Linked DNA regions of Homo sapiens. The protein of the gene in region 1 purifies or fractionates together with the protein of each later gene. This does not show direct contact. Each region holds a gene or a part of one and is shown in the gene's direction. Other genes may lie near its edges.

The links.
Region 2: the proteins of EFL1 (region 1) and NSUN2 fractionate together in Homo sapiens (co-fractionation; 2 studies listed by BioGRID). This does not show direct contact.
Region 3: the proteins of EFL1 (region 1) and RPRD1B fractionate together in Homo sapiens (co-fractionation; 2 studies listed by BioGRID). This does not show direct contact.

What each region holds. Positions count from the first base shown.
Region 1 is NC_000015.10:82,223,014-82,233,733, reverse strand, and holds part of EFL1 (elongation factor-like GTPase 1), read left to right. Parts: intron 1-2,762; coding exon 2,763-2,886; intron 2,887-4,623; coding exon 4,624-4,700; intron 4,701-5,406; coding exon 5,407-5,543; intron 5,544-6,161; coding exon 6,162-6,284; intron 6,285-8,469; coding exon 8,470-8,569; intron 8,570-10,720. UniProt on the Homo sapiens protein: GTPase involved in the biogenesis of the 60S ribosomal subunit and translational activation of ribosomes.
Region 2 is NC_000005.10:6,598,854-6,609,573, reverse strand, and holds the end of NSUN2 (RNA cytosine C(5)-methyltransferase NSUN2), read left to right. Parts: intron 1-2,189; coding exon 2,190-2,374; intron 2,375-2,661; coding exon 2,662-2,754; intron 2,755-4,165; coding exon 4,166-4,301; intron 4,302-4,888; coding exon 4,889-4,969; intron 4,970-5,297; coding exon 5,298-5,436; intron 5,437-7,073; coding exon 7,074-7,113; intron 7,114-9,341; coding exon 9,342-9,648; 3' UTR 9,649-10,335; downstream 10,336-10,720. UniProt on the Homo sapiens protein: RNA cytosine C(5)-methyltransferase that methylates cytosine to 5-methylcytosine (m5C) in various RNAs, such as tRNAs, mRNAs and some long non-coding RNAs (lncRNAs).
Region 3 is NC_000020.11:38,036,589-38,047,308, forward strand, and holds part of RPRD1B (regulation of nuclear pre-mRNA domain-containing protein 1B), read left to right. Parts: intron 1-870; exon of another isoform or gene 871-1,519; intron 1,520-3,846; coding exon 3,847-3,976; intron 3,977-10,720. UniProt on the Homo sapiens protein: Interacts with phosphorylated C-terminal heptapeptide repeat domain (CTD) of the largest RNA polymerase II subunit POLR2A, and participates in dephosphorylation of the CTD by RPAP2. Transcriptional regulator which enhances expression of CCND1.

The sequences.
Region 1 (10,720 bases):
ATCTATCCTGTTAATTGATGTTAATCTGGGAGAGTCTGCTCTGAAAAGCAGAAGCATATTGACTTGGATGGGTAGCATCAAGAATCTAAGTTCTTGTTTTAGATACATAGAACTGAGTCCTCAACCTTATAGAAGAGGGACAGGAGAGAAGAGAAATGAAAAGCCCTTTGTAATAGATTTACTTGTCTTTGTGTAACTGAGTATTAGAATTCTGTAATTAACATTAATCTACTGGGTAGCTTGGAGGGCAAAAGGGTGTGTGTGGCTCAGTAATTTCATACTTGACTGAGTTGTCATTCAGGAAGATAGGCAATGAATAGATCAGTAGTCTTGGAATATAAATCTTTCTGCAGGTCTCTTAGAATCTTGCTTGCAGTTACTCTGTAGAGGAAATGAATTAAAATAGAATTCAAGAATGGGGAAGTGCTAGAAATTGTCAGTGTTTAAAAATTGTAACTAATGACAAAAATAAATAAAAACACTAGCAGTAATGTCGAATGGGTTGATGTTAAGCAAATTTTGTAGTAACTACGGGATAAAAAAGAATGAAAAGGATAAGCAACAAGATTTTTGAAAGATTTGTGTACCCGTATGTGTACACATGTGTGAATATTTAATATGGTGGACTAGAAGAGCCTAGCCTAAGCAAATGGGCAAATGTCTTACTATAATTTATGATTTTGATAGAGGTTTTAGAGTGTTTATTTATAAAAATCTTTAAGTTTACCACTTTCAGAATTAAGAGCAGGATATTTATCTGACATATTATAAAAGATAAAATAATGTATAATACAGTCTGGGTAACACAAATCAACATTTAAAAAAAAATCCTGGAAGAATAGAAACCACACCAGAAATCTAACTGATCAAAACAGTTGTACCAATAAATGATTATACCAATAAATGTATGAAATCCCCTACTAAGGAGATATTTTTTAGAAAGGAAATTTTATTAAAAAAATAAATCCATAAGTTTGCTACATAAAAGAGATAAACTTAAAGCATAATGGACAGAGGCTAAATACCAAAGCTTTAGCTCAGATTATGTCAACCAAATGTGAATGAAAAGAGAGGTTTGGCAATATTAACAATAAAATAGGATTTATGGTAAATGAATTATGGCATAAGGATCATTTTCATATAGATAATTGACACATTTACTAGTGAAGAGATTAACTATCAATTATCATAACAACAAAGTGCATGAGGCAAAAATAGAACTATAAGTAGAACTCTGTAGGCACATGGTTTGGGGGCGATTTTCACAGGTTAGTAGACAGGAACATGAACCATATGAATAGAATAATTAAAGTCAGAATTTAAGTGTCAGTGAAGGATATACAAAAATTGGTCCTATATCAGGTGAAAAAATAATTCAAATTTAAAAGAAAGAAAATGTCACAGGTTTCATGTATTCATCGCTCAGTCATTATCTCTGGTTTTAACCATCTAAGAATAGACCCAAGTCGCCAATATGGAGAGCAAAGCTTCAGCTGTATTATTGAGGCCCCAGGGAGCATCACTACTAACAAATAGGGCTCCCTTCTAAGGTTAGGTTGGAGAGTGCCTGGGAAGTCAGTCCACAGTGGTTGCCTCCTATTGTTTCTTTCCATATGTGGACCTTGGACCTGCCTGTAGGTCCTGAATTGGATTTGCAAATCTGCATGGCAGGTTGCAGCCTGCCTAGCAAAACTGGGTATTTATAAATGAAAAGCCACAGAGATAAGGGTATCCTGACTTAACATCTGGAAGTAAGGCTCTGTGTGCCGTTCTGGGTGTGCTGAAACACCGGAAGCCAGGAGGAGGCCTGAATCTTTTTAGGGATCCACAGAGTAGGCAGCAAGGCAGAGCCTGCTTTCTTTTTGAGGCATAGGAACTCTACCAGTGGATTTCAGCCTTTCACCTTGTCTTCATTTGTGGAAGAGTGATTAAAGAGTCACGTGTGAACAAAGATAGTTTTATTTCTTCTTTTCTAATCAGTATACCCTTTATTTCCTTTTCTTGTGCGATTGCATTAGGTTGGGCTTTCAGTATGGTGTGGAAAAAACTGGGGATATCCTTTTTTTTTTTCCTGAGCAGGCATCTTTTAAGATGCTGGTACTTTGAAAATTCTAATCTCAAACCTTAAACTAGATTGTTCTCTAAAGAAAAGGTATTTCTTAGGTCCTTTATCCAGACAATGCAGATGCTGTATATAGGACCCTTAGTTGTTGATTGACTGTCTTCCTGTGACTGGAGACCACGGTGGTAAGTGGTTTTTCTCTGTGGGTTGATGCGAGTTAAGTCAGTGTGTGTATGTTTACCATTAATCTAGGATAATAAAAATCTTGTTTTGGCAGGTTGTGGCTCAAGAATTTCTTTCATTTGTGAGCAGCTGTCACTTAACAGCAGTGAGTAGCTGAAATAAAATTTTATTGTTGGCATAGTTGTGACAGGCAGCTGGAGCTTGCATTTTCTTGTCCCTAATTTTATCTTGTTTTACACCTGCAAAATTAAGAAAGAAAGCTATAGCATGTAGTACAATTCATATTGGTGTAGACCTGAACATGGGCTTTGGAGCCAGACCGCTTGGATTTAAATCCCCACCTCACTTGTTCCCTGTGTGATATCTCTGCTTCATTACCCTTTTCTGTAAAATGAGGAAATTTTGTAGGATACTGGATTAAGTTTAGTAATACACGTGTAAAGAAGTTTGAACAGTACCTGTCACAGAAATCAATAATCGTTGTTATTAATAACATGAACATTTGGTCTTCTTTCAGAATTGAGCACTTCGCCAGAATCTACAGTCAAAAAATTGGCATCAAAAAGGAAGTTCTTATGAAAACCTTGTGGGGAGATTACTATATAAATATGAAGGCTAAAAAGATCATGAAGGGTGATCAGGTAATGTGGTATATGTCCCTTTTGGTTGTTGGTCATATTCTTGCCCTATGAAAACCTATACTGTAATATCTTTAATAAATGTAATTCAGCTTTAATTTATGCAGGTGAGTTCATGAGGGATTTTTTACTGTATATAATTGGGAAAGGCTTACAAGTCCATATACAGGTATTATTCATACAGAATTCTTAGTCCTTTTAAGTATAGTGAGCAAAGAACTGCCTTTTCTTTTCTTTCTTTTCTTTTTTTTTCAGAAGACCAAAAATCTTAGATCTTGGGCACCTGAAGACACACATTTTGTGCTGTGCATTTGTTTGTCCCTGTCACCATAAAGAGATGTCTCTTCTAGACATCCCTGTATGGTTCACACTGTCTTTCTAGTGTCAGCTGAGGCCTTATCTCACTGCATGCTGGTCATCGTGCAGTGTAGATCGGGAGAGGTGGGTGCTCCCTGAAACCCCTTCTATAGATAGAGGTGGTGTAGGAATGCTGTCATATACCCTCAAAGGATACTTTTCTTGGAGCTTTGTGTTTTTAATGTTAAAACCAGGATTTCATAAATTTATTCTCATTGAAAATCATATACATTGCTTTGAGAAAATATTCACAAGTATAAAGCCACAGTAAACAAAAAAATCAAAGCCAGCACTGCTAGTAGATGTTTATAATTTCTTTCATCCTTTTTACATAGATATATACATCCCTCAGTTGAGATATGCTGTTTATACAACGTAGCTGCCCTTTTGCTTTTGTCATATCATGAACATCTTCCCTTGCCATTAAAAGCTTTTTTATAAACAATATATTTTAAAGGGAGTGAATATAGCTAAGTGGGAAAGAGCATGCCTTGAGAGTTGACTCTGTGTTTGAATTTTGGCTCCACCACTTATTGGCTCTATGACTTTTATCTCAGTTATTTCATCTGTAAAATTGAGATAATAGCACTTATCTCATAGGATAGTTATGATTCTATGAAATAATTCAGTAAGCACCCTGTTATTTTATTTTGTGAGAGCACTATCATTTATGAATCATTCTCTTAAGATTGGACATAGTTTTTTCAAATGTTTTGATATTGTAGAGTTATGATAGACATCTTTGTGCATAAGTTTTATGTCTTCATGATGCTTTTTTTTAAAACTGAGCATTCTAAGCCAATGACTTTTAATTTCTTAATACTGTTGCCAGTAGTTCTTCAGAAAGGAGGTATCAATTTATTAATATATCCCATCTCGTGTATGGAAGAGTATACCCCTCAAGGTGCTCTTGCTATTAACTTTTTGCATAGTTTGTTAAGAGTAATGATGGGGTTTTTTGGGTTTTCAAAATTTTCCTATCCTTGTGAACCTTTAGAAATATGTTTAAGAATGCTTTATGTTTCTTGTAACATAATTTTAGACTGAAGTCCATGGAAAGAGCCCGCATGTGCAGAGTGAAGTTTTAGCTCTTGGCTTGTGTGCTGTGTGTATTTGTTTGATGGCAGCCATGGTAATATGACCCACAAATGGTCATATCACTTGTAAAGTCTATGGTTCCCAGAGGAAAGAACAGTGGATTATTATTGATTGTGGATTATTGACTGTTTAGTGCATTCTTATAACTACTTTCATCTACTTTATTTTTGAATAAATATTTTCAAGTAGAAATGAAACATATTGATAATAAAAGCATGTCAAGAAGGAATATATAAATGCCTATTAAATGTTCAGGAACTTAAGCCCGTATGTTCTTTTGTACAGGCCAAAGGAAAGAAACCTTTATTTGTACAGTTGATCCTGGAAAATATATGGAGTTTGTATGATGCTGTTTTGAAAAAGTAAGACTCTTATTGTTTACCTTTAGGCATCTTTAGGCAGTATAATTTGTCTCACTTTCCAGTTTGATGAGTCATATTTCAGAAAGCTGAGATTTTCTGAGAAAATGAACAGAGCTTCTACAGATGAGTTGATTACAGGGCTTGGAAGCAATTTAAAGAAGCCTATGTAACCCAGCTAAAGGGTGATGTTGGAGGGACAGGATAGCAATATTTTATAGAGTGCTGAGGAGAAGAGATGAAAGGATAGAAAGAAACATTGGGTCTTTGTTTATGCAAACCCACTTTTAAAAAATAGTTATTAAAGTAGAAAAGGTGCTTGATAGCTAGGATCATTAATGGGGAAGTTGAGAAATAACTTTTCTGGTATAAGTTTGCTTTAGTAAATTTGCTTTCTAAGTTATTCCTGAGATGGAATAATGACTTGTTAGCACTTATTTGTAAGACTGCTTTACCACTTGGTATAGCTTGCTTGAGGAGATGGTGGAGAAGTACTTCCTGGGAAATCTTAAAGAAGGATTCACTTGAAAGTGTAAGAGTAGAGGTTGGGGAGGCCCCTTGTGTGGCGGCAGGATTCCCTTCAATCATTTTTAGCTTTTTTTGAAAAAGTAACACATTAGGGTAAAAATATGCCAAATAATGTTGGGTTCCACTGCCTGTTTATATCTGCATATGACATTTCCCCTCTCCAATCTTGTGTTTACCACAGGGACAAAGACAAAATTGATAAAATAGTGACTTCTTTAGGATTAAAAATTGGAGCCCGGGAGGCACGACATTCAGACCCTAAAGTTCAGATCAACGCCATTTGCAGTCAGTGGCTACCCATATCCCATGCTGTTCTTGGTATCCTTTATTCTAATGGTTTTTAATGAAATAGTTTTGATAAAGCTAGAAAAAACAATGCGTTATGGTAACCAAGAAATTCTCTGGAAATAACATTCAATCCAAAATAAGTCTTCTCTGCTTATTTAGTGTTCTACCATGAAACTGTATTAAATACTTTGATAATTAATACACTAATACTAATTTGTGTTAACATTACTAATAGTGAACTTCTTTAGGAAGACTATTCTTTTTGTGTTTGTTTAGTAATCTATAAAAATAAAAATGTTTACACTAAGATTCAAATATAAGTAGATGATTTAGATGTTTGTGTTAGATAACTGTTTCATTTCAAGGTCACCTGTAGCCAACCTGCTAAGCTCTGTTCTCATTTGTTTCATGGGCCTCAGTGTTAAAGTATCTGTCATGAGGATCCTTTCTGAGCTTTAAGGAGTTTGTGAACTCCCTGAAATTGTATGCATGTTTTGAGATGTGATGCATAAAGCAGTGTTGCCTTGTAGCACAGGCATTTTCTGTATGGACAGACTTTGTTACCTCAATATTTAGTGCATACAGTGAATCTTCGCCTTGGTGGGAGGCACTGGCTCAAGGTTTTCAGTCCTTAACAATAGACTTCAGCTATGGTGTGTCAGAAACTTCCTAGTCCCCTTGATATTACAGCTGAGAGAGTGGAGAGACTGATGTGCACAGGATCACAAACTTTTGACTCTTTTCCACCAGAAACTCAAGCACTGAAAGCAGGTGAGGAAAGATGGACCTGTTGGAATATACCATGTCATTGACTGTCCTCCATCCAGGCTGCTCTAGACCAGTTTGCTGAACGCTAGTTTGCTAAATGGCCAATTTGCCAAATGTCCACTTCCACAGATGAACAGTTTCACAAATGACCATTTCACCAGTTTTGCCTCCCACCCTCACCCCAAAGGTTTTCTTGTTACAGCCATTTTGCTCAGGCAGTAGGGTGAGACCAGCGACTTGTACACATGCTCCTCGTGAGAAAAGAAGCTCCCATTCTGGGCTTTGTAGGTTCCATGAAATTTGTCTCCACGTATTTTCTTATCTCTAATTCTTTTCCTCCAGTTCTATTGGTTTTGTAACCCTGCCCCCAAACCACTACACTGTTATTCTTGGCATCACTATTGACTTTCGGTTCATTAAATCTAATGGCCAGTTTTCAGTCTTCACAGGACTAGATCTGTCACTAGCATTTGACGCAATTGATCACTCCTCCTTGAAACACTTTCGTCCCTTGACTTTTAGGCTTCCATTGCTTTCATTCCCTTGCTTCTGCTTTTCTTCGTGTCTCCCTGGCTGCTTATCCTTAATATCTCTTTTTGTGATTCCTCCCCATCTCCCTGGCTTTTTAACTTTGGGGTGCCTCAAGCAAGGTTCAAGTCTTTGATCCTCATCTGTTTTATCTGTAGTCCCTCTTTTGATAATTGTACCCAATCTCAAGACTTTAAATGACAGCTACATACTCATAATTCCCACGATTATGTGTCTTCAGAGCATGTCTGTTTTCTGGACTCTGGACTGATATCTAGAACTCCCTCTACACTGTGTTGTCTAAGAAGCATCTCAACTGAACATATCCCCAACTGGACTTTTTATCTTATCCCCAAGCCTGCTCACCTAGTCATTCCCATCTCAGTTAGGGAGACCTCAATCTTTTCATTTACTCAGTCCAAAAACCTTGGAGTCATCTATGGCCCTTATATTTATCTCACACTCCAACATCCAGTCCATCAGCAAATCCTGTTTATTCTTCCTTTGAAATACAGAATTCAACTATTTCCCAATGTTTTCACTTCCTGGCCAACATGGTGAAACTCCGTCTCTACTAAAAATACAAAAACTAACTGGGCGTGGTGGTACACGCTTGTAGTCCCTGCTACTCGGGAGGCTGAGGCAGGAGGATCGCTTGAACCTGGGAGGCGGAGGTTGCAGTGAGCCGAGATAACGCCACTGCACTCCAGCCTGGGCGACGGAACAAGACTCCATCTGAAAAAACAAACAAACAAACAACAACAACAACAATGAAACAACTAGTATCCCTGCTTCTGCTCTTGATTCCTGTTAGTGTTTTCTCAACTATTGCAGACAAAACAGAGTGATCCTCTTAAGATATAAATCAGGGCATGTCATTCTGTTCCTCATTCAAAGCTTCCACTGGCAAGACTTCTGATACATGTTTGATTCTTACTTCCTGTGGTTTTCTTTTTTCTTGTTTGTATTTTACTGTTGAATTCTTTATATATAAATTATTTTAACGTGAGGTGATGGAATTGTTTTAAAAAAATTCATTAATCAATGTTTTTTTACCTCCAGTATAGGTTAAGGAAAATGTTCATATGTTAATATGAAATTGCATTAAAATTTGTGTATTTAGGGAGAATTGGTATCTTAATAGTATTGAATCTTAATTTATTTCTAAGAATTTGTTAATATCATAATACAGTATTTTTGTCCATTTTATTTTCTAACTTGTTATTGTGGGGGATTGGGAAAGCTATTGATTTTTATGTATCTTATTAACAAGCTACCTTGTTGATTGTTGGCCTTTGGTAACATTCCTCAATTCTATTTTCTATACTTGATACAGTGAAAAATGTATTAGTGCTTATGGTAGGTGGTTAACCTCATTGCATAGCTTTAGCTTTCATATGAGATCCCTCACCCTGTCAAATTTGCTTGCTTTTCTTTTCTTATTTCTGCCAACTGTTTGCTCTTGCTCTGCTATTCTTTCCTAGCAATCTTACCCTTTTCTAATTAAAATTTTTATCATAGTTGGAAAAAGTTATGGACTTCTGGTGTATTTTGATGATGCCATCCATGTTCTAAACATTTTAATTGTTTTCCAGAAAAATCTGTTTTTTTTTTTTAATAATGGGAAAAATAGTGACATTTTTACTTCCTATTTGTTTAGCTTTTATGAAATGTGGAAGTGAGGACACTGCTCCAGTTATTATATTTGTTTCCAAAATGTTTGCAGTTGATGCTAAGGCCTTGCCTCAGAATAAGCCAAGGTAAGGGAAAGGGGAAAGTTGGGCTGGGCTAGGAATATGGTGTATGTTTGGTGGGATGCAGTTGGGCTGTGGGTAGGGGGGGCACGGATAATGCTTTTCCTCCTCAACCCAGAATTCATATCAAGCCAACCCCCAGGGTAACATACAATTTATACAGTAGTATATCCTTTTGTGATACCTCTGTAGGAGAAAGTTGTTGAAATCAGCTCTGGAATATTGAATTGAAGTGATGTAAGTTTGAAGAGTATGTTAGCAGTAGTAGCAACAATTAACTTTTATTAAACATGTCAGGCAAGTTCTAATCTAAGTCTGCCTTGTCTCATCTAATTCTGCCTACCTCAGTAGAGATTATGAATGTATGAGGATCTCTGCTTCCCTGTGTGTATTATGTGTGCACAGGTGTGATAGGTGTAGGAGAGGGATATTCCTCAAGTTCCAGAGTCTTGGGGAATCTGTGTCTTCTACATTTCCTGTTTTTTATGTGTGTTCCCCTCCTTCTGTCTCTGCTGCTTTCCCCACTAGTTTAGATTCTGATCATCTCTTGTGGATATTGTTGCAGCAACCTCCTAGCTGGTTCTCCTGCCCCATCTTTAGTTCCACTGATCCACTTGCCATTCTTTCTTTAGAGTGATCTTTATAAGACTCAGCTATGAAGATATGTCTCTTGCTCAAAAACCCTTAATGATCCTCACTGTCTTGAGCAGTTTTGATTCAAGTGTAAAGTGTTGGCGATGATTTCAGTGGTACTTAGGGAAACAAGTTTTAATATAATTAGTTGTCATATTTATTTTAATGTGTATTTGTGTGTATTGCCTGTGTATGTCAAGTGATAAAGCCTTTACCATGATGAGATTTTAAAGTTTTATTGAGTTAAAAATGTTTGTGCATTTAAATAAGTATTAAATAATAATATGCAGATATAGCAGAAATCATGAAAATGATATGTGAGTGACTGAAGGTCAGATCATCAGCCCGTGAAATAAACTTGACCTGTCTTAGTGGCATTTCTGACCCACCATGACCTGACCCCAAACCATGTTTCGACTAGATTTTTATTTCTGTTTCTCTAATATACTAGTGTCTGAACAAATGTCCTATCTGTACTTGTGCTGTTCCTCCATCTGAGAAGGCTTCTTTTCCTCTGATAAAATTCTGTTTGTCCTTCAGGGGAAAGGTTATGCTTTGTTTTTTAGTACTTCCCTAGTGATTTGGACATTAAGTGTATTCAATAATTTTTGTCCTGGGGATAAGTAAAGGAATAGATGGGTGAGTAAATGAAGAATGAATGAGTGAATATCCAAATGGGGGAATAACAGGTCAGTGAATGGGTGAATGAGTGGCTAACTGAGTAAGTAAGTGAGTGAATAATGGAATGAATGAATGTCTAATTATGTATCTAGGCTACTCCCAGATAATATTTCAGTGCTACATGTAGTAACAATTTCTTGTAGTAACAAATGTAGGATATTGGATGTTTTTTGGCCATTGGGAGTATCTGAGAGATTCTGGTAGAATCATAGGGAATATCAGAGAATTGGAAAACTTGCTGTTAAGATTTGAAATACATGTATTTATAGCATTTAAAATTCCTAGCTCTACCCATCCTTCATTTCTTGCTGATGAATAATAGTATTATTATGCCTCTACTGTTAATTACATTTTCTGTGAATGTTTTTCCTAATAATTCATCATATGCTTTTCTGATTTTAGTATATTTCTGATAGTGCAATCCATTCTATTCCATGAAGTTTTTTTACTGATTTTATTTTTGTCATTGTTTTTTAACCAGTATATCAGGTTCAACAATTGTTACATAATAATATAGTGTTTTCAGGTATACCTGGGCAAGGTCATCACCATTACTTTGTTCTTTTCCATCTTCTAGCTGATTTTTTTTTTTCATTTAAGTTTTATTTTTTAAATTTGGGAAAATGTACCATTGGAAGTTGGTTTGATAGCATTTTCATCTCCATTGTATTAGACATACAAGCCAGGAATAGCAGAGTATTATTTTCCTTTAGTATAGAGTACAATGTATTAGTGATATGTGCCAGGGAGAAAAGTAAGGCAGGAAACAGGATTCGGCGCCCACAAAGCCTAAAAAATTTTTTCCCTAACTTAGTGAAGACACTGACCTTTACTCACTGCTCA
Region 2 (10,720 bases), on another chromosome or scaffold:
TTATTTAATAAAAATTGAAAAGACATGAAAGATTGCTCTGTGGCTCTCAATTGGAAGCCCCAGGTTTCTGTGCTCTAGTTCCTTGTGAGTGGTTCATTTCACCAATTACAGATAGCAGAGCTCTGCTGACCCCAAGCCAGCCCGGGTTCACCTTGGCTGCAAGGAATGATGACGGCCTTGTCCAGACCTGGCTAGAAAGATGCAGCCCGGCCTGTTTGCTATGGATCTAAACTGCCTGCTGGTTCCTTTCCAAGGCAGGCCAGGAAACAGTGGTGAAGGAGTGTTGCCCTCATCCTAACACGCAGTCCTTTGTAATGCGTGCTGTCTCACCTGTATCACGCCAGCATTATTTATTAGTTCATAAATCAGCCTTCCATGATGAAAGAACCTGGCCTGGAATCAAAGTCTGGAAGTCTGTATTTCTTTAAGATCCATGCTTGAAAATTAGGACAAAAAACGCTTAGCTTTGGAGGAACAAAAAGGAAACAGTTCCGCAAAGAGCTCCAGCCTTTTTCTGGGGCACGGTTTGTGCAGTTTAACGTTGGAACGTACAGCCTCAGACGGGCAAAGGGGGCGACTGCACTTCTGCCGCCACCAGGGTTTTTCTGTCAGGTTAGAAAGTATTTCACTTTGAGGCTAAAAGTCTCACAAGGTATCTTAACGCTGATGGAATGTTATTTTCATGGAATCAGTATAAGAAATTATATTGTAAAGTATTAGATACTTTGCATTCATTCATACTAGGTTTCAGTAGCTTGTGTTTTAGACTTTGCGCTTGTCACATTTTAAGTGGTCAGTGACCACAGGCTTGTGGCTGCCCAGCTGCAGAGCACAGTGCAGTCACAGAGGAGCCTGTCTTAGAGACGCGTGCTTTAGGTTGGCCTGCATTAGGGCTTACATTGATGTTTCTGACGTGTTAATACTTACATAGAAAGGTTTTGACATTTTTTCAATTAGCCCCTTATGTATAGTCTTACTTTTTAGAACAACTTATTGTCATTTTCTCGTTTAAATAATATGAATACTTCTCTCTTTCTGTTACTATGTCAGTTTCTTATTCACTTAGTTCAACAGATCTAGTGCTAGCATGGCCTGTGCTGCTGTTGGTCCTACTGGGAACGCAGGTAGAGTCTCCATGGTCAGGATGCCGTGTTCTGTTGTGGTGCTGAGGCCTGTAAGCACTTGGCTAGAAGTTAGGCCAGGGAAGCTCACACTGACCTTGGTATTTGAAGGTCCCAGAATGAGGTTGTTGAGGTAGAACAGAGATGGGAGAACATGCCCTTGGAGCTGGACTCAACAAGAAGGCCCCTCTGGGGGAAGCTGAGGTTGGACAGGAAGGGCGTGTGCCCTCACTGACTTGCTCACAGGCTTGGGGTTCATCTGTTTTGGTTTTTGCTTTTTTACATTATATTAACATGGAAATAAAAGGTGTTCCCTGGGATGCTCCCGGCTTCTCTGCTCAGTAGCTTTGTGGCTCTGAGTAAAATGAACTTGCCTGTGTTGAAATATCCTAATTTTTAAACTTACTTCATAGGGACTGAGGAATTACGACTTTTATCAATTTTGTGACCTGTTAAAATGTTAAAAAGGACATGTATTTTTTAAAGATCTTTAAGTAAAACATTTTGCTCATTCCCAAAGCCAAATTTAAATTATACCATGGCCCTAATTCAGAAGTTCATTCTTTGGCAGGTGTTTCCTTGGTGCCTGGGGCACTCTCTCTTTCTCCCAGTTCCTGTGGCAGTTTGTCCAGGTGCCCAAGAACAATTCATACCCTCCTTTCTCGTTATTTATATACTTGTCTTTTTGCCCCTGCCGGGTATTTTAGAAATCGTGCTTGGTGCACTTTGTGTCCTTCAGTGTGCCTTACCCAGAGCAGATGCACGATAAGCATTTTTACACGAGAACAAGCTGGTGGTGTAGGCCTCTGCTAAGGAACAGGCTGTATATGCTCTTTGTGGGATTAAGGTAGAATCAGCTTTAACTCCAAAGAAACTGTCCATGAATTTTGTTTATAATAGCAAGTAGATTTAAAATGACACTTTAAAAAAATTCTGTTGTCTTTCTCTACATATAATGCTGTAGAAAAATATAACTGATGGATTTTGTGAACGTGGTATTTTTAACTTTTCGTAGCAGCACAAAGAATGCTCCTCTTTGTGTGTCAATGAAATTGTTCTTTATGACAGCTTCAGGGTAAATCTGCAGAGACCAGAGAAAGCACACAGCTGAGCCCTGCAGATCTCACAGAAGGGAAACCCACAGATCCCTCTAAGCTGGAAAGTCCGTCATTCACAGGAACTGGTGACACAGAAATAGCTCATGCAACTGAGGATTTAGAGAATAATGGCAGTAAGAAAGATGGCGTGTGTGGGTAAGAAAAGTGGTTATGTCTTGATCTAATACGCTGGTGTCTTCACAGTCCTTTTGGATTAAATGGGATCCCAGAGCCACTTCTTGGTCGGTTTGAGGGGGCAGTACATGTGTGGTATCAGGCACATGCAGTGTGAGGGCTGGACTCTGTGGAAGCCGGAAGGTTTCAACATCTGCCGCAAACCGTTCCATGTTGCACAGAACTGACAGAAAGGAAGAATGTGCTTTTGGTATTGAAGGTTACCACACATTACAGATTGATTTGTCTCATCCTGATTCCCTTTTTAGTCCTCCTCCATCAAAGAAAATGAAGTTATTTGGATTTAAAGAAGATCCATTTGTATTTATTCCTGAAGATGACCCATTATTTCCACCTATTGAGTAAGGATTCAGCCTTTTTAATTATTCATTTAAAGAAATTTACTATAGAGTATCAAATGTACAACTGATCACATGTAACCATTGTTTTGTATGTAGTTCTGTCTAGCTTTTTTTTTTTTTTTAACCTTTTTAACTGCATATTAGAGCAGGATGAAACTTTAGAGGTTACTCAATCTTTTAATTTAAGGAGAAAGTAAACTTTTACTTTGTGAACATGATAGATAAAAAAAAACTGGACCGGGCGCGGTGGCTCACGGCTGTAATCCCAGCACTTTGGGAGGCCGAGACGGGCGGAGCACGAGGTCAGGAGATTGAGACCATCCTGGCTGACACGGTGAAACCCCGTCTCTACTAAAAATACAAAAAAAATTAGCCGGGCGTGGTGGCGGGCACCTGTAGTCCCAGCTACTCTGGAGGCTGAGGCAGGAGAATGGCGTGAACCTGGGAGGTGGAGCTTGCAGTGAGCCGAGATCGCGCCGCTGCACTCCAGCCTGGGCGACAGAGCGAGACTCCGTCTCAAAAAAAACAAAAGAAAACTGGACTGTGATTATGAATCTAAATTAGTTGTGATCCTGAACCTAAATTACTCAATTGAGTATATAGACGAGTAGCCAAGGTTGTCTAGTTCAGTTTCTGTAGAAGAAATGAAGAGCAGCATGGGTGAGGGCTAATTAGGGATGACATAGACAGAATATAGAGGAAAAGGGTTTAGGACAAGTCTGACATTCATCTGTTTCTTATTCATTGAATTTTAGAATCTATTTACCAGGGCGGTCACTTACTGTCTTTTTTAATAACTGGTCCTTTGCATACATTTGTAAAAGTCTATTAAAAAATAAGTCTCAGCCGGGCACATCCCAGCACTTGGGGAGGCTGAGGCAGGCAGATCATGAGGTTAGGAGTTTGAGACCAGTCTGACCAATGTGGTGAAACCCCGTCTTTACTAAAAATACAAAAAAAAATTAGGTGTGGTGGCGTGCACCTATAATCACAGCTACTCAGGCTGAGGCAGGAGAACCGCTTCAACCCGGGAGGCAGAGGTTGCAGTGAGCTGAGACTGCGCCACTGCACTCCAGCTTGGAAGACAGAGCAAGACTCCATATCAAAAAAAAAAAAAAAGTCTCAAAAGTAGTGTTATCAGGTCATTATCATTGGAGTAGCGGCTGAGGGAGAGAAGCTGCACTTGTTAATTTAGGTTTCTGATGGAGTTGTGCCCCAAATAAATGTTACGTGGAGGTTTCAGGTGGAAGTGGATGAAGTTTAGAAGCTGGAGTCCAGAGCAGAGCCCAGTGCCCTTGAACCACACTGCAGTTTTGGGGATTGAATTCTGGAGGAGGAGAATAAGATGTTTAGAAACAGTCTACCAGATTTTGAACTCATTGTGGATAAACAACAATGTTGTTATGTACAGGAAATTTTATGCTTTGGATCCTTCATTCCCAAGGATGAATTTGTTAACTCGGACTACAGAAGGGAAGAAAAGGCAGCTCTACATGGTTTCTAAGGAGTTGCGGAATGTGCTGCTGAATAACAGTGAGAAGATGAAGGTGCCAGCCGCACAGACGCTGAGTGCTGTGTGATGCGGGATGCGTGTGGCTTTTCACAGCGGCTTAGATTTCATTTGGAGCAGACCGTGACATCTGCCCTCCCCACCTGTAGCGCTGGCTGTGGGTCCCTGAGCCTGCCCTTTGATTTCAGAGCTGTTGACTGACACAGGGCTGAATGGTTCCTGCCAGAGTCCTGAATCTGGTGGCCTGTGTCTTTTCTGTGCCCCATTCCCGCAGGGGGGTGAGCCATGGTGTAGTTCTCACAGCTCGCCCTCCTGGGCAGAGAAGGTACTAAAGGTGTAGAGGCTGCGAGTACTGCTGCCCCGACCCTTGGGATTTGTCCTTTGAGGTACTTCCCTTAGAATTTGGCCATTTGGGGGCCCTTCTTTCATTTGCTTTACTGTCCTCCAAACGACGTAATCACAAGTTGTGAGTATCAGTTCGTTCTTAACCGGGGTTTCTCGGTGGGTTTCTGCTTCTCCTCTCCTTTCCCATTCCGTGACGGTTGCTCCATGTGGCCCGGCATCCTTACAGGAGATGGTCCTGTCTTCATCTCTCTGTGTTTCATCTTATTTTTTTACTTACAGGTTATTAACACGGGGATCAAAGTCTGGTGTAGAAATAACAGCGGTGAAGAGTTTGACTGTGCTTTCCGGCTGGCACAGGAGGTAATTTTGGAAGTGGATTTGAACAGCAGTAGCCACAGATGACTGAAGCAGTCGGGAGTAGATGGGCTTGCTGGTCAGCCAGATGGTCTGAGTGGCTCAGGGCTTGGCTGGCACCTACCAGCCACTTGACCCTCACAGGTTATAGAGCTCTCCCAGAGTGCTGGTTTCCCCTCCTAGGGGGGGGTGGGTTCCACACCTGTCCAAGGGGAGGGGCCATAGTGAGGGCTCGACCACCATAGCCGCTAAGAGCATAGCCCCTGAGAGCAGGCTGTTGTCGTTCATGAATGACATCATGGTATCTGTTCTCTCATTCTCTTTATTCACACAGGGAATATATACATTGTATCCATTTATTAACTCAAGAATTATTACTGTATCAATGGAAGATGTTAAGATACTGTTGACCCAGGAAAATCCCTTTTTTAGAAAACTCAGCAGTGAGACCTACAGTCAAGCAAAGGACCTGGGTGAGTAGTTGGAAATGCATAGAGACATAACTTGTATTCCCTTTATAAGGCCAGCAAAAATGCAGGTGGTGTGCGTTGGGGCATATTTATCAATCATAGTTTTCAGTTTATTTATGGCTACATCAATTTCCAGAGGGTTCTGTAGATCCCTGATTGACAGTTCAGAATGCTAAGGGTCAAAGGCATCTTGGGGTTGGTGTACTTCCCCAGGCTCTGGTGGTGCCCTGCTGCTGCCCAGCAGCCTGTGGTGTGTCTGTGTGGCGTGCAGGGCTGGCCTTTGCTCACCTTGCTGGGCCAGAGAGTCCGGGGAGAGGAGGGGTCAGCCTGTGAGCAGCCCTGGCAAGCCTCCCAGCCAGAGCTCTTGACCCACTTGCCTGTCAGCAGGTCGGGGGTGGGTGGAAGCAGGTCTCTGTGCATGAGCAAATTTGTTTTTTTCTTTTTTTGTTTTGAGACAGAGTCTCGCTCTGTCACCCAGGCTGGAGTACAGTGGCACGATCTCGGCTCACTGCAAGCTCCGCCTCCCAGGTTCAGCCATTCTCCTGCCCCAGCCTCCCAAGTAGCTGGGACTACAAGCACCCGCCACCACGCCCAGCTAATTTTTTGTATTTTTAGTAGAGACGGGGTTTCACCGTGTTAGCCAGGATGGTCTCAATCTCCTGACCTTGTGATCTGCCTGTCTCAGCCTCCCAAAGTGCTGGGATTACAGGCGTGGGCCACCGCGCCCAGCCAGTAAATTTGTTTTTTAAGGTACACAGCCTCACGAGACTGGCTAACATGCAGATTTTAATCACCTGTGTTAGAGCAAAATAAGAGTCTTGCCAGCAGTTCTGACTTTTCTGCTAGCCAGCTGGAGTAGATTATTGGTCATATTGCTGCTTTTATATTTCATCAACTTCCACTTCAGATCACTCCAGTGACGTTTTCCCCTAAGCATAAAAATCATTTCTCCAAGCTGTTCTAATTTTCTTTCTGTTGTCTTCATTCTTGTTTATTTTTTTAAATAACTTGCTGTTTAATATTTTTGGCTCAATTTGATCAAAAGTACGTGAATCACTTCTTGCAGTTACGTTTCTTACTTGCGTTTAAAACTTACTCGTGTGGTTCCTTTGGGATATAAAACATGCTCTGTGGAGTCTGTCTCCCACTGCCGTCTCCAGGCAAGAACCACAATTTAAAGTAGAGATTCTTGTAAAGGATAAAGGACCTGTTTATACTGGTTTTCTTTTAATCCTGCACTTAGATGATTGCAGTATTGTTTTAGACAATTTTTATGTATTTCATGCCATTCTGGGAGTTGGTGTTATAGTTTATTTAATTTTGAATTTTGAAGAATTAACCAGCAGTTAATCCCCAGCCTCCTTGCTTCTCAGAGTGGATTGTCAGGTGACATCCCTTGAAGTCCCTGAATGGCTTTTGCCTGGGTCCTCTTCCAGATCGTCCCTACTGCGTCATTTGGACTTGGTTCATGTATCCAGACGGCCTCTTTTCACCATCTAGATCCTTGAAGCCAAGAATGTAGATTATTTGTTGTTTTCTTTCTTCAGAATACTTAACACATCACTAGGTGCAGAAATGTGCTCAGCGCATGCATCCACTACCTGGAAAACCTGGCAAATGTGTGTCTGTTTCTTTTCCAGCAAAGGGAAGCATCGTGCTGAAGTATGAACCAGATTCTGCGTAAGTCAGTACACGCCCTGCCCTTAGACACACACGCCTTGTCATTAGCTACAGTGTTCTCGTTGGTGAGGAAAGTGACTTGGGAAGGTGGGAACCTTCTTCAGGCCTTTTGTGATTGTTCCTCAGAAGTAGCCTTGTGAAAACTTCAGAACCAAAATATTCCTGTAGGTCATCATGAAGATGCTGTTTCATAGAACACTCAGCTCAGGCTAAGTGAATTTTTACTTACAGAGAATAAAATGCATAGTACTTATTTTTTAAGCATTAGAAACCAATGAAAATTTCTGTCTTGTACAGAGTAAGTGTGAAGATTGGACAGTTGAGTGAGGTTCCGTTCTTTTGTCCTCATGGCTGGTTCAGCCATGTGTGTTGCTGACATGTTACTGCATCAGGAGTGCTAGGGCCGGAGCATGGGATTTGCTCACGCTTGCACTCACGGTCCCCACGGGACCACTGCTCCACGCTGCTTGCATGTATTCACGCTGCATCCTTGTGGGGGGCCTTGGGGGAGCAGGTGCTGGTTTTGGCAGCACTTGCCAGAGGAGGAAGCCGGGACAGAAAGTTAGGTGGCTTGCCCAGAGCTCCTCAGCTCACGAGTGGCAGAATTCGGATCTCACCTGCAACAGCTCCGTCTTGGTGACATGCAACACCATTTCTGAGAGGAGGAAACAGAATGGGGTCCACGGCTGACTGGGATTTGGGGGAGTGAATAGGTAGAACCACTGTACAGATTTCTTTGGGAAGTTAGTGTTGGACCAGGGATCCAGTGCTAACTTGAAGGAACCACCAAAGCGCAGATCCTGAGGCAGGTGCAAGCTGGGGGTCGGGGCGGGCCCAGCCAAGTAGGGAAGGAGGAGGGATAGGTAAGAGGTTGGCAGGGAGGCCGAGGGGCCACATGTCCTCAGGGTTCAGGCTGTCCGGCTGCCATGTGGAGAGAGGACAGGTGGGGGCTGAGGTGGGAGGGGCAGGAACTTGGTGAGGGAACAACAGATGGATGGGCTGGAGAGGTCAGCGAGGCCGAGCGCATGAGCACCCTGGGGACCTGCTGGAGGCGGATGGTGTCTGGATGGTGAACGGGCAGGAGCATCTAGTGATTGATGGCTTCTGGGTGTTTTTAACGAGAGTTTGAACAAAGACTCAGAAATGGTTTTTAAAATAACAGTCCCATGTGGCCCACATAGAAAATATTGGGATATTTTAAGGTGTGGATTCACTTTTCCATATTTAAACACTTGTTTCTACTTGGTGAAATACACAGGTGACAGGTCAACTTCAGGAATAATGGTTTTTTTTTTTTAAGAAGATGGGAGTTGGGAATTTCTTATATTTTCCTCTCACTTCTTAAAACCACCTTTGTGCCCCTGCTTTACATTAGGAAAAATGGAAAGGTGATTAAACACGGCCGTTAGGAGCCTAAAATCTAGGTCAGAGTCCCGTATGAAAGAAATCAGATAAGTTGAGAGAGGGCGTGTGCAGGTTGGAAATGGTGGCGTCCATCTCTGCTGGGGCGTCGATGCCTCCTGGCTGGACAGGTGGAGCCTGGAAGGTAGGGAGGCTCGGAGCATGTTCAGAGAGGCAGGGATGTTTTTGACTGTGGGTAACACTGCATGCTGGGAACGGAAATGAGCACTGTGTGCCCAGCAGGGCTCAGACTGCCATGTGGGGTCCCTGGAGAAGAAATCACGCTAACACTGAGTATCAAAAGGATGAGTGGTCCTGGGTTCTGCTCTGGCAGCCCTGCTAAGGGCAGAGTCTCCCGGTGGTCCTGGGTCCTGCTCTGACGCCCTGCTAAGGGCAGAGTCTCCCAGCCTCTCAGGAGCTTCAGTCCACTTAGGAAACTTGAGGTGAGCTGCAGGGAGCCTGTGGAGAAACGCTTCTCATTTAGTGGGGTGAGGTGACACGGGGTGGCGGGGACAGTAAGTTAAGTTTGAGAAGGAAGTATGTAGAAAGTGTATGTGAAATCTGTAGATTTGGGGCCTCTACTCCATTGTGAACTTAAAGAGGCAGGGCGAAAGCGAGGGTGAGAATTTTACTCAGGACATGAAGAAGGAAGTCCTTTGAGAAAACCTACCCCTCGGATCCAGATGAAATGTCCTCCCAGTAGTTTTGGGGGTTTTGTGGGTATGGGTTTTCTGTGGTTTTCTTTTTTAAGCAGTTGCATATTACATCTCATTCGATTTAGTTATGGGAATGTTTAATGTTCTACATGAAGCCACTTTCACTTGTAGGAATCCAGACGCTCTGCAGTGTCCCATCGTCTTATGCGGATGGCGGGGAAAGGCCTCCATTCGAACTTTTGTGCCCAAGAATGAACGGCTTCATTATCTCAGGATGATGGGGCTGGAGGTATTGGGAGAAAAGAAGAAGGAAGGGGTTATCCTCACAAATGAGAGTGCAGCCAGCACCGGACAGCCAGACAATGACGTGACTGAGGGACAGAGAGCAGGAGAGCCCAACAGCCCAGATGCAGAAGAGGCCAACAGTCCAGACGTGACAGCAGGCTGTGACCCGGCGGGGGTCCATCCACCCCGGTGAGCAGGCCCAAGGCAGCGGGGGCCCACACCCCTCACACGCAAAACTGGCTTCTTCTGGTCACTGGTGTCTGAAACCAAATCCAGAGCAGCCTGTGGCCTGTAAAGCATATATTTCTAATGACTGCAGACTGGTGGGATCATAGGAGCCTTCTGAATGACCAGGACTGCTTTCTTTGGAGCTGATGAAAATGTACTCTTTTAGCGTGTTAGAAATCACTTGTTTTATTTTGTTTCTTTGGCCAAGCTGGGTCTAGTGTTTCTTTTGCTGGGAATAGACTTTCAAAAGTTGTACTTCTATCAAGAAACAAAACTGCCCTTGCAGAAATTTCAGGTCTTTTGTTAAGCCTGTATTGGTCTTAAGGTGCAGTATTTTTTAAATTATTATTTATAGAAAGAATCTATAAATTCTTGGGGAAGTGTGTTATAAGCTTTAATAATTACATTGAGCTGCACCTCAGTGGTGTGTCATTAACATGCAGTGGGGTTAATATCTGAGGCCTCAGATGACTTTGTGCCTTTTGGAATAAAGGGTAAAATAAACTCTCCCAGAGTAAGAGCTGTATCGTGAATTGTCATACTAATTATTGAGGGGGACTTATGTGCTTTTATTGAATGGAGTGCTTTACAATTTTTATTTTTAAATGGGGTTGGGATCCTTGGAATATTTCAATAAAATTGATAAAATATATACATGTGTGATTCCTGTTTTTGCTCTTAGGAAGCAGAAAGAACAAACTTACTTTTGGCTAAATGGCAGTGTTAGAATACATCCTTATTTTCTCTAGTGAAAGCGGTTTTACTGTGAAGGCTGCTGTCTTCCTGTCTACCTCATTTTGTGTGTTGGTCTGTACAAACACCGACCACACACTGCCTTTGGTGGATTTGTCTCTGGAGTCTCCACTGTGGAATACTTTCAAGCTCTGTGGCGTGAAGAGCTCCTATTTCTCTTTCGCCCACATTCTCCACTGAACATTTCTCTACATTTGCATTTGCATCCTCTGGTGTGCTTGCATGTCACTCATTGTTTTCTGAACCCTTTGACAGTAAGTTACAGACGTGTTCCGTTACCCCCT
Region 3 (10,720 bases), on another chromosome or scaffold:
TTAAAAATAGGAATTAAATCATGGTCTCTGATAGAATTTTCGTGGTTGAGTAAAGGATCTAAACAGCGCTATCCAATACAACTTTCTATGATAGCAGCATAAAGGATATAAACAGCGCTATCTAATACAATTTTCTGTGATAATAGCAATGTTTTCTATCTGTGCCATCCAACAGGTAGCCGCTTGGTATATGTGGCTATGGAGCACTTAAAATGTGTGACTAAGGAACTAAAGTTTTAAGTAGATAGAATTGAAAATTTAGTTTCCAGTTTTTACCAGCTGCAATTCAGGTGTTCCAATAGCCACACGTGGCTAGTGGCTAACTTACTGGACAGTGCAGAGTTAAAAAAAGATGCTCTTCCAAGCATCAATACCTAGCTTCCGAATATCCAGGCTTATTTCATGAACTGAAAATGCCCCCACACTGAAAGAAAAGGATTCTGTGCCCTAATGTTCAGATTGATTAGCCCTGTAGGTTCTACCTAGGGTGAAGTCATTTTCCGTAGCTGAGATGCTCACAGACTGTCTCTGAGTTGCCTTCAAAATATATGAGATTTATAAAAATTAACTTTTTTTCTTGCTTAAATACTTCTATTCCTGATGTGTTGTCTTTCCATTTTCTAGGAATAATTTTTAATTTATCCCATTTGAGCTCTGTTCTAAGTAGAACGTCTCCCCTTCTTTATGGACTAGTTTTGGTGTAAAGTGCTCCTAAATGAATGTTTTTAATGGTGTTTTGTATCTTGGCCTGAATGTAGGTAATGGGCTTTTATTGCAGAATTACTTTAAGACTTTCTGTAGATGTCAAAACCAGCCAAACAAGTGAAAAGTTTTGATTAACCAGTTGTTTAAATTTTACTCAACAACTAGTTTGACCAGTTTGGAATGGACATGGGTAGTGAGTGAAAGGACCTATTTCTGTCGTATAGGAAGGACATCTGAACAAGTGAGTTGTCCCCCAGGATTGGGATGGAGGGGTGTGCATGTTGTGTGTATTGTGACTGTGTGTGCTCAAGAGCTCTAGGGTTTTGTCATATCACCTTGACACACATGGTGCTTATGTTGACTGTTGAGGATGTTGAATATGGAGGGATACAGTTTATCCTAAATAAATCCCCATTGTTAAGTTCTGGGGTGATGAAAATTAATTGGCATTGTAAACAGTGAAAACCTTGGGTCTCAAGCCCCTTAGATACCTTGTTTGTCTACTGAGAAGTATATATCAGGTCTTGAATGTCCACACTGACATTTTACAATATGGATTCTAGGTTTTTTTTTTTTCAACATAAAGTGTATGGAATTTTAAAGCTTCACTTAATGAAATTTGCTTTGTTGAAGTTCTGTTTTGCTTTCGAATCTGCTAACTTGCATGGGATTATAGGTGTAGTAGTTTCACTTACATCAACTTTGCAGAGCAAGGTTTGCTTTAACAAAAAAGCACGTTTTGCCATAATCATACCTTTGTAGCAACAGTAGATATTGTAACTACTGACACTTTTGTTCTGCTTTTGAATAATAATTAGAAAGTTGAAGAAAGCTCCAGGTTCCTAGTATTCTTATCAGTTGGCCATCTAAACTAGGTTATTACCAGAAGGTTAAGACAATTCAGGGTATCCATATTTAATTTTATGAGCATTTAAGACATCAGTTTCATCAGTTTAAACTGTAATGTGCTATTAAAATCATGTTTTTAACTTGGGTTACTCTCCTGTAGCTACATTTTTTTTTTTTTTTTTGAGACGGAGTCTCTTACTCTGTCACCCAGGTGGGAGTGCAGTTGGCGCGATCTCGGCTCACTGCAACCTCCGCCTCCCAGGTTCAAGTGATTCGCCTGCCTCAGCCTCCCAAGTAGCTGGGTTTACAGGCGCCTGGCACCACGCCCGGCTGATTTTTTTTGTTTTGTTTTTTTTTTTTTTTTTTTTTTTTGAGACAGAGTCTTGCTCTGTCACCCAGACTGGAGTGCAGTGGTGTGATCTCGGCTCACTGCAAGCTCCGCCTCCTGGGCTCACCCCATTGTCCTGCCTCAGCCTCCTGAGTAGCTGGGACTACAGGCGCCCGCCACCACGCCTGGCTAATTTTTTGTATTTTTAGTAGAGACAAGGTTTCACCATGTTAGCCAGGATGGCCTTGATCTCGTGACCTCAGGTGATCCACCTGCCTTGGCCTCCCGGAGTGCTGGGATTACAGGCGTGAGCCACTGTGCCCAGCCTCCTGTAGCTACATTTTAAAATGTCAGATCTTATGCCTGCTATGTCAGACATATCAATGCTTTGTACATTTCAAAAGAAACAACTGGTTTCAGAGAGAAATAGAGTTACTCAGGTGTGTTAAGGTTGATAAAGAGCTTGTGTTTTTCAGGTACTTTAGCATTGGAGAAAACTTTGTGTTTTGAAACATCTAATTATGTTCTTATTTATTTCTTTTAAAAGAAAATTGGAACCAAAAATTGTAGGGATGTAACTTTATAGTTGAGAAATTATGTGCATAGAAGCCAGGGAATTCAGTAATGTTCCCCAAAGCAACTGTAACTCAGACATATTGCACGAGGTTTTTATGGTTTAATATATGATACCATATAGAGTAATAGGGAATAACCACATTTCATATAAATAAGAGAGAATTATGGTTTTTGTGAAAGCCCTAATTTTGCATATCTAGATTTCACACGTGTGTAAATTTTCAATAAGAGTGTAGTGTTAATGTATACTTGTATTTGAGCTAATATCTATTGGTGCACCTAGAGATTCTTCTATATTATTGATTATGGTTATTGGAGTATCAGAGAAATTCTCAGTTTAGGAGCAAAATTACAAGAAACCTTTTTTTTTTTTTTGAGACGGAGTTTTGCTCTTGTTGCCCAGGCTGGAGTGCAACAGCATGATCTAGGCTCACCACAACCTCTACCTCCCGGATTCAAGCGATTCTCCCACCTCAGCCTCCTGAGTAACTGGGATTACAGGCATGTGCCACCACGCCAGGCAAATTTTGTATTTTTAGTAGAGACGGGGTTTCTCCACGTTGGTCAGGCTGGTCTCAAACTCCCGACCTCAGGTGATCCGTCCATCTCGGCCTCCAAAAGTGCTGGGATGACAGGCATGAGCCACCACGCTCGGCGAAACCATTTTAAAATTGAAACCTAACTCAGTCTTTTTTTTTTTTTTTTGAGACAGAGTCTTGCTCTATTGCCCAAGCTGGAGTACAGTAGTGCAATCTCGGCTCACTGCAACCTCCACCTCCTGGGTTCAAGCGATTCTCCTGCCTCAGCCTCCTGAGTAGCTGGGACTACAGGTGCCCACCATCACACCCGGCTAATTTTTGTATCTTTAGTAGAGGTAGGGTTTCACCATGTTGGCCAGGCTGGTCTCAAACTCCTGACCTCAAATGATCCACCCACCTCGTCCTCCCAGAGTGCTGAGATTACAGGCATGAGCCACTGCGTCCGGCCAACTCAGTCTTTCATTCTGAAATATTTGATAATTAAAAGTGAGTTAGAAGTTGCTCATTTTTGCAGTAGAATAAATAAAAGCCCTAGTTTCAACATTAACACTGACTGCTTATCCTTTAGGAATTCTCTTTGGATTATCTTAATTTTTACTATCAATTAATTACCCTGGTTTAAACAACACAGCAATGAAGATGGCCCATTCTTTTTCTTTTTCTTTTTTTTTTTTCCGAAATGGTATTCCCAAACCTATTCCTTAGGTGGTCTTTTTAAACATATCTACTTGACCCCCCAGGTAGATAATACTTGTCTTAATGTTTTTTTAGGAGCAGCCCAGGGCAAAAGAATTGTGAATTGAGAATTTCTTTGGTGTAAGTTAAATTCTTTTCTTTTCTTTTTTTCAGCCAAATCAAATAGAAAGCTTACTTTTCTGTATTTAGCGAATGATGTCATCCAAAACAGTAAAAGGAAAGGACCTGAATTCACTAGAGAATTTGAATCTGTCCTTGTGGATGCTTTTTCTCATGTTGCCAGGTATGTTGTCTGTTTTTTGGATTTGTTTTTAAATTCATTGCCTTTCCCACCTTTTTGTTCTTTCCTTTTCTGTGATAGCCTTTGTAAATTGACAACTTCCTACTTTACAGAGAGTTGTGGAGGCCGAATTGTGGTTTTATGTTTTGTTGAGCCCTCAAGAACTATCGAGACATGTAAACATTCTGATACATTTGAGAGATTCAGCCTAGCATTATCTTTCTTCTAGATATATTCATTTTCATTTTTTGAATTTATTTCTTGGTTATGGTATTTTCCTTGGTTTGGTTGAGTTGTCTCATCAGCTTATGATCAAAAAACAAAGCTAACTAGTAAGGGAACCTTTTAGTAACATAACTTAATAGCAAGAAATTAATTGCCAAATGCCTTCCTTTTTATTTCCTTCTGGATTTCTAGATGTCTAGTTTACTAAAAATAGTAGGCATTACTGTAACTGCAATAATAGTAATTATTAGTGTAGAAAGTAGGTGTTTGCTCTGGCTATATTGTATTAAGCCTGGTGCTGTTGTGTTTTGTGGCAGAGAGGAGTGGCACTCATACAACTAATACCATAGAAAGCATACATTGGATTAAAAGTTTTATAAATTACTTTACTTCATGTAAAAACAAAAGCTTTCTGTGGGCTTAAATTAGGTGCCCAGGAAAAGCAAAGAAAAACTATCGTTCATTAGAATATTATGTTTATAAGTAAATATATAAACAGATATTTGCAAAAGGAATTGGGAAACATGAATGGGAGACTAGTAGGTTAAACATAAATTGTTACTAGGTCTAAAATATAGTGAAAGGCCTTAAATGAGAAATGAAGTCCTGCTTTCATTGCAGGATTTGAAAAGTTTGAAGGAATAAAATTAGAAATCCAAGAGAAAGAAATGACACCTAGCTTTCTAGAGATGAAAAAGATGGTTTTTGTGGATAAGTTACATAACTGGCTCACCTTTTGATCAACATGGGCGCAAGTAGCAAAATGTGTTATTAACTTGAAAAAAATACTGAATCTTCATAACAGAGTAAGCTTAGAACAGACTACTAGAGGAGCTATCTGAAATAGACAGATTTTCTTGCTTTGATGAGATTTAGTTCACAGTTGCTTAGAAATTGATGGTAGCTCTGCCTCAGACACTATGTGAGTGACCTTGGATGTGTTACTTAACTTTTTGAGCCCAAATTTCCTAACTGGCTAAAGGGGGAGGATACCACTCCCCCTCATAAGAGTTGTGAGGGTAAAGACAGACAATATGTTTAAAAGTATGTAGTACAATGCCTGTTCCACATTTGCTCATTCATTGGATCATTTGTTTTTTCCTATATTCCAGGCACCTAGTAAAGTGTCTGGCACAGAGCTGCTGAGTTATGTAGCTTGAAGGAATACCATTTATATAGCCTCCATGTAAGTGGTGTCCCAGGAGCTGGGCAACATTATGGTCTGCCCTGACACAGTAGGCGTTCAGTAAATATTTGTTAAATGAGTTAATTAATGTTAACTCATTATGGAAGAGATTTGGTCTAGGGAGTTGGCTGGAATGATTTCTTGTAGGGATAGTAAACATAACAGTGTTATTAAAAAATTCCAGCCTGGGCAGCATAGTGAGACCCTGTGTCTACAAAAAATTTTTTAAAAATTAGCCAGGCATGGTGGTGTGCACCTGTAGTCCTAGCTACTTGGGAGGCTGAGGCAGGGGGATTGCTTGAGCCCAGGAGTTCAAAGCTGTAGTGAGCTATAATCATACCACTGCACTCCAGGTTTAGCAACAGAGCATGACCCTGTCTCTAAATTACAAACAGACAAACGATCTGTAATCTTTAGCTGTCCTGAAACCAAAAAGTAAATAGAAAGGGGTGGAAAAGGGGGTGGGCAACACCAGGGTTAAAAATTCCTTTTTTCTTGGGAACACCTTAAAAACTAGCCAGGTTTTAGGTGTCTTGGCAGATTCAGTGGCAGTGTGAGGAAGATAAACCTGGTCCTTCTCAATAAAATAGCCCGAATTCCTTTCTGTTTGCATTCTGGTTCTTTTAAGATTCTGCTTGGGTATTACATTCAGGATACCCATGTTTCCAATCTCCTTTCTTATACCCCATTATTGGGACAGAAAGTCCAACAGTTCTGCTTCAACCGTGATGCAGCTCGTCCACAGTAGGAGTAGCCTAATTAACATATACTTTCTGTGTGCTTTTTCTGTGGTCAGTTGATGAACAAAGATAGTTGACCCATTACTGTTGACTAAATTGATGAGGGATATTTTTATGATAAAAGACACCTCCACACCCAAAACAAACAAACAGTAAAAAAAACTCTCAAGTCAGAGAAAGCTGCCAAGTTCATAGGATAGATTTGATTTGAATAGCAGTTTAATTAACCAGACTGCAAACTTGCTTTTCATACAAGTGCCTTGTTTTCTTCCCAGTGAGGAGACAGCTGTCCATGTCATTTTTCATTCAACATGTATTGGAGTGCCTTCTATGTGCCAAGTATGGATCCAGACACGGGGGGAGCAGCAGTGAACAAGGCAGGCAAAGACAATTAAATGAGCAAGATACTTTCAGAGCAGGACAATATGGACATAGTAAAATGGAGTGATGTTCTAGAGTAGGATCTCACAGGTAGTGTGGTTCAGGAAGGCCTCTAAGGAAATGACATTTGCGGTAATCATGCGAAGCGGGAGCAGCTATTAAGAAAAACTTAAGGCAGAGATCATCTTGGCCTTCTAAGAGAAACAGAATGAAGGCTGGTGTGGTTAGAATATAGTGCACAAAGGGAAAAGTGATATCCAGATGAGGTCCGAGAGGTGGACATGCAGCAGTCACATACACCCTGTAAGTCTTGGAAGTTAGGATTTTTTTCTCATGGGATGTCATTGAAGAGTTTTAACCAGGGGAATGATATATTCCAATATATTCCAACATACATTTTTAAAACATCCCTCTTTAAAAATGGCTTAGTGTAGAGGGATGGATTGTAAAGGCCAAGGGAGGGGCGGGGACATGAGTTTGGAGGATATTGCTGTGATGCAGGCTAGAGGTGACATTGCCTAGGACTCAGAAGCAATGGGAAGATACTAATAGCTTCCATTTATTGAGTGCTTCCTTCGTGGGAGGATCCCCACCTCTCCAGTGTAAAACTGATAGGATTTATAGGCGTTGAGTGGGAGCTGGTAGTAAGTGAAAAGAGAAATCAAAGACGATTTCTAGGTTTTTGATGTAAGGAATGACTGATGGTGCCCTTTACTGAAGTGAAGATTGGGGAAAAGATTTGGTGGAGGAAATCACGAGTTTTGTTTTGGCCAGGCCGAGTGTGAGGTGGCTAGTGAATATTCCAAGGAGTGATGCCAAATAGGCAGGTGGATAAAATAGTCTGAAGCTCAGTAGAGACTTGATTTCTGGAGACATAAATTTGAGAGTTACCCACATGATATTTACTTATTGTTGTGGGCCCCAAGACCACTCCCAGGTTTGGTGATTCCCTAGAATGACTCACAGGGCTCATCATGTAGTCATAGTCATGGCAGTGATTCATTACAGCTAAAGGATCCAAAGCAGCAGCAGCAGCAGAGGGTGATGTGCATGCAGTACCCGCAGCAGACTGGAGCGCTCTGGGTATAAGCTTCCGAGTCCTCTCTCAGTGTTATTCCACAAACACGCTTAATTCCTCTAGCACTGAGTTGTGATGTGTATGATGTGTAACCTACCAGGAAAGCTCATTAAAGACTCTGTGCCCAGAGTTTTTATTGGATTGGTCATGTAGACACCCTCTGCCAAAATTCTAAGCTCCCAGAAATAAATCAGGTGTTCATTTTTTTTTTTTTTTTTTTGAGACGGAGTCTCACTCTGTCGCCCAGGCTGGAGTGCAGTGGCTTGGTCTTGGCTCACTGCAAGCTCCGCCTCTCGGGTTCATGCCATTCTCCTGCCTCAGCCTCCCAAGTAGCTGGGACTACAGGCGCCCGCCATGATGCCCGGCTAATTTTTTGTATTTTTTAGTAGAGACGGAGTTTCACCATGTTAGCCAGGATGGTCTTGATCTCCTGACCTTGTGATCTGCCCGCCTTGGCCTCTCAAAGTGCTGGGATTACAGGCGTCAGCCACCGCGCCAGGCTCAGGTGTTCATTAAGAACCGTATTGCTTGCACAAACAATTTAGGCCCAGTAAACCACCCTTACCAGTTAGGAAATGGTAGGGACACTCGGAAATCCCAAGTTCCCAGACCACTTCCCTAAGGGTAGCAGTCTGGCCTTCTGTGTTAACTCCTTTCTGAACCAGCTTTACATGAGGTACTGTTGGAAGTGTAGGGAATACTTAGAATTCCTGCCCTTAGTAGGCCTACCATAGGCCTGCTGTGCATGAGATAAGACAGAGTTGTACAAATTACTGTGGTTGTACTGAAAAAGTGCCATAGAACTGTAGAGGAAGAAAAGGCCCCCAAGGCTGGCTTTGCAGGGACTCAGGTGTCCAGCTGACACGTCAAGCAGCCAATTCTGTTTGTGTGTATCATATACATTTTTCACTCTTAAAGGTCAGTTTTGCTATCTGTATTGAAAAATAAAGTGATTGAATTTGTTATTAATCAGAATTAAAATATGAAGTGTTCAACGTAATATTAAGTTGTGTATGTAATTATTTGCCATCTTCCACTTTATTCATAGATTGTTGGCAAAGATTGTTCAGTCTTTTTTTCCACTTAAAGATTTCTCAGTTTAGATTGGAGTTAGTACAACCTGAAAATATTTCTCTTTCTGTTATAAAACGGCTTTATTACTTTGGTTGTATCTAATTCCAGATGCCAAAGTGACTTCCATTTCGCTGGAGCTACTTCCTTCAAAACCTAATCAGTAGAAAGATTTCTTGAATATTTTATGTATAACTTTGAAACTTATCTAGCAAAACTTTGATTTACCACAATGTTCAAGGAAATATCTGTCCTGGTTAGTTATATTCACTAATTAAACTAGAACCCCCCTTTTGGCCTTTAGTAGTAAAAGCCTTTTGAAAATGTTTTGTGGTTATAACAGGTTTGAGCATCATTTTCCACTGTGCCTGAAACTGTACACAAAACCAGTCTTAGCCTGAATGGAGTCCCAAGTATCTCCAGGAATGGTGGGTGGTGGGTGTGTGTTGTGATACCCACCTACTTTTAAACTAAGTCCTTGATAAGAATTTATTCTCGAGACTGGTTTCTCTTTCTTTTAAGCGAACAGAGAATCTGCAGCAAACAGATTTTATGCTAAAAGTACCAGCTAGTTCATTAACTAAGTTCTGATTAGTTGCAATTTGGTTTTACTAATTATAATGACTTTATTTTTCTAAGCTATACATTTGCTCACATTAGGGACCTCCCATTGCCTGCAGGCCACGTGCTTTAATATGGCATTCAGGGCTCGCTGTAATTGAATTCCACCCTCCTTCCAGATTCTTCTGCAGTTTCCGCACATTCCCCCATATACTTCAGCTACTTGAATTACTCCTTTCCCTTTGCCTTGTTCAATTTTGGCTATTCCATTTGAAGGAGAAGAGATAGCATGAACAAAGGCACATGCACATGAGAGAACAAATTCTGAGTAGCAAATACATACGGGTGGGTGTTGCTGGAATGCAAAGTTCCAGGTAGGGTAGGGAAAGGAGACTAAAAACAGGTCTGAGGGATTGCTGAGTCGAGCCCTAGAGGTCAGGACCCAGGCCTTCTTATTCTTTGTAAACCTTCATTGGTCGAGCTGAGGAGTGCTTAGTTGATTTCTGCCATGACCTTGATACAGTAAGATGATTGTTGAAAGTTAAGTAACTGTATTACTTACCGAAACCCATATACATTTTTCTGGAAAAGATTACAATTTGACAGATATTCATTGTGCTTGTTCAAGGGCATATAGCAATGGGAGAAAATGACAAATCTGCACCCCTGTGGAAATTACATTCAAATGGAAAGCGTGTAAACAAAAAGTAAACTATTGAATATACAGCATACCAGAAAAGTTGTATGGAGAAAAATTGAGTAGGGGCAGGGAGTGTTATTTTCAACGTGGAGATTAGGGAATGACACACTGAAGGTGGTGTAACTAAACATACCCCTGAAGGAGGAGAGGAATTGAGCTGTGTGGCCACATGGGGAATGTGGTTCCAGGCAAAGCAAACTTTTGAAGTGCTAAGGCTCTGAGGCAGTGCTAGGGTAGCTGTTGTTGAGGCAGGAGGTTGGAGGACGGGGGTGGGGAAGAGTGGGTAGGAGATGAGGCCAGGGAAATAACAGCTGGGTTGGGAAAGGCCTTGGAGTCTTTATAAGGACTTTTATTCTGAGGGATACTGGGAAGAAATGTTGGCAATTTTGAACAAAGGAGTGACGTGGTCTGCCTTAGTACAGCAGCTAAAATTGTATTTTGAAAACTCGAGAACAGGTTGTAGGAGGACAAGGGTGGAAGCGAGGAGACCAGTAATGAGGCTACTGTAGTAATGCAGGCGAGAGATGATAGTGCCTTGGGCCAGATTGATAGCAGAGGAAAAGATGAGAAATAACTCATTTCCGGATATATTTTGAAGGTGGAGTAAAAGTGTTTTATCACAAATACCAAGTAATTGGGTCATATTTTTAAGCTTTATAAAATTAGCAGTAGAAATGTTTTTCCTTTTTTTTCCCGAACCCTCACTTCTGACTTTAAAAAGTTTAACAAAAAAAGAATTAATTTTTATGTACTCTGATTGAGTCCTTTAGTCAGTGAAATTTACCACTAATAATTCATAAGTGAG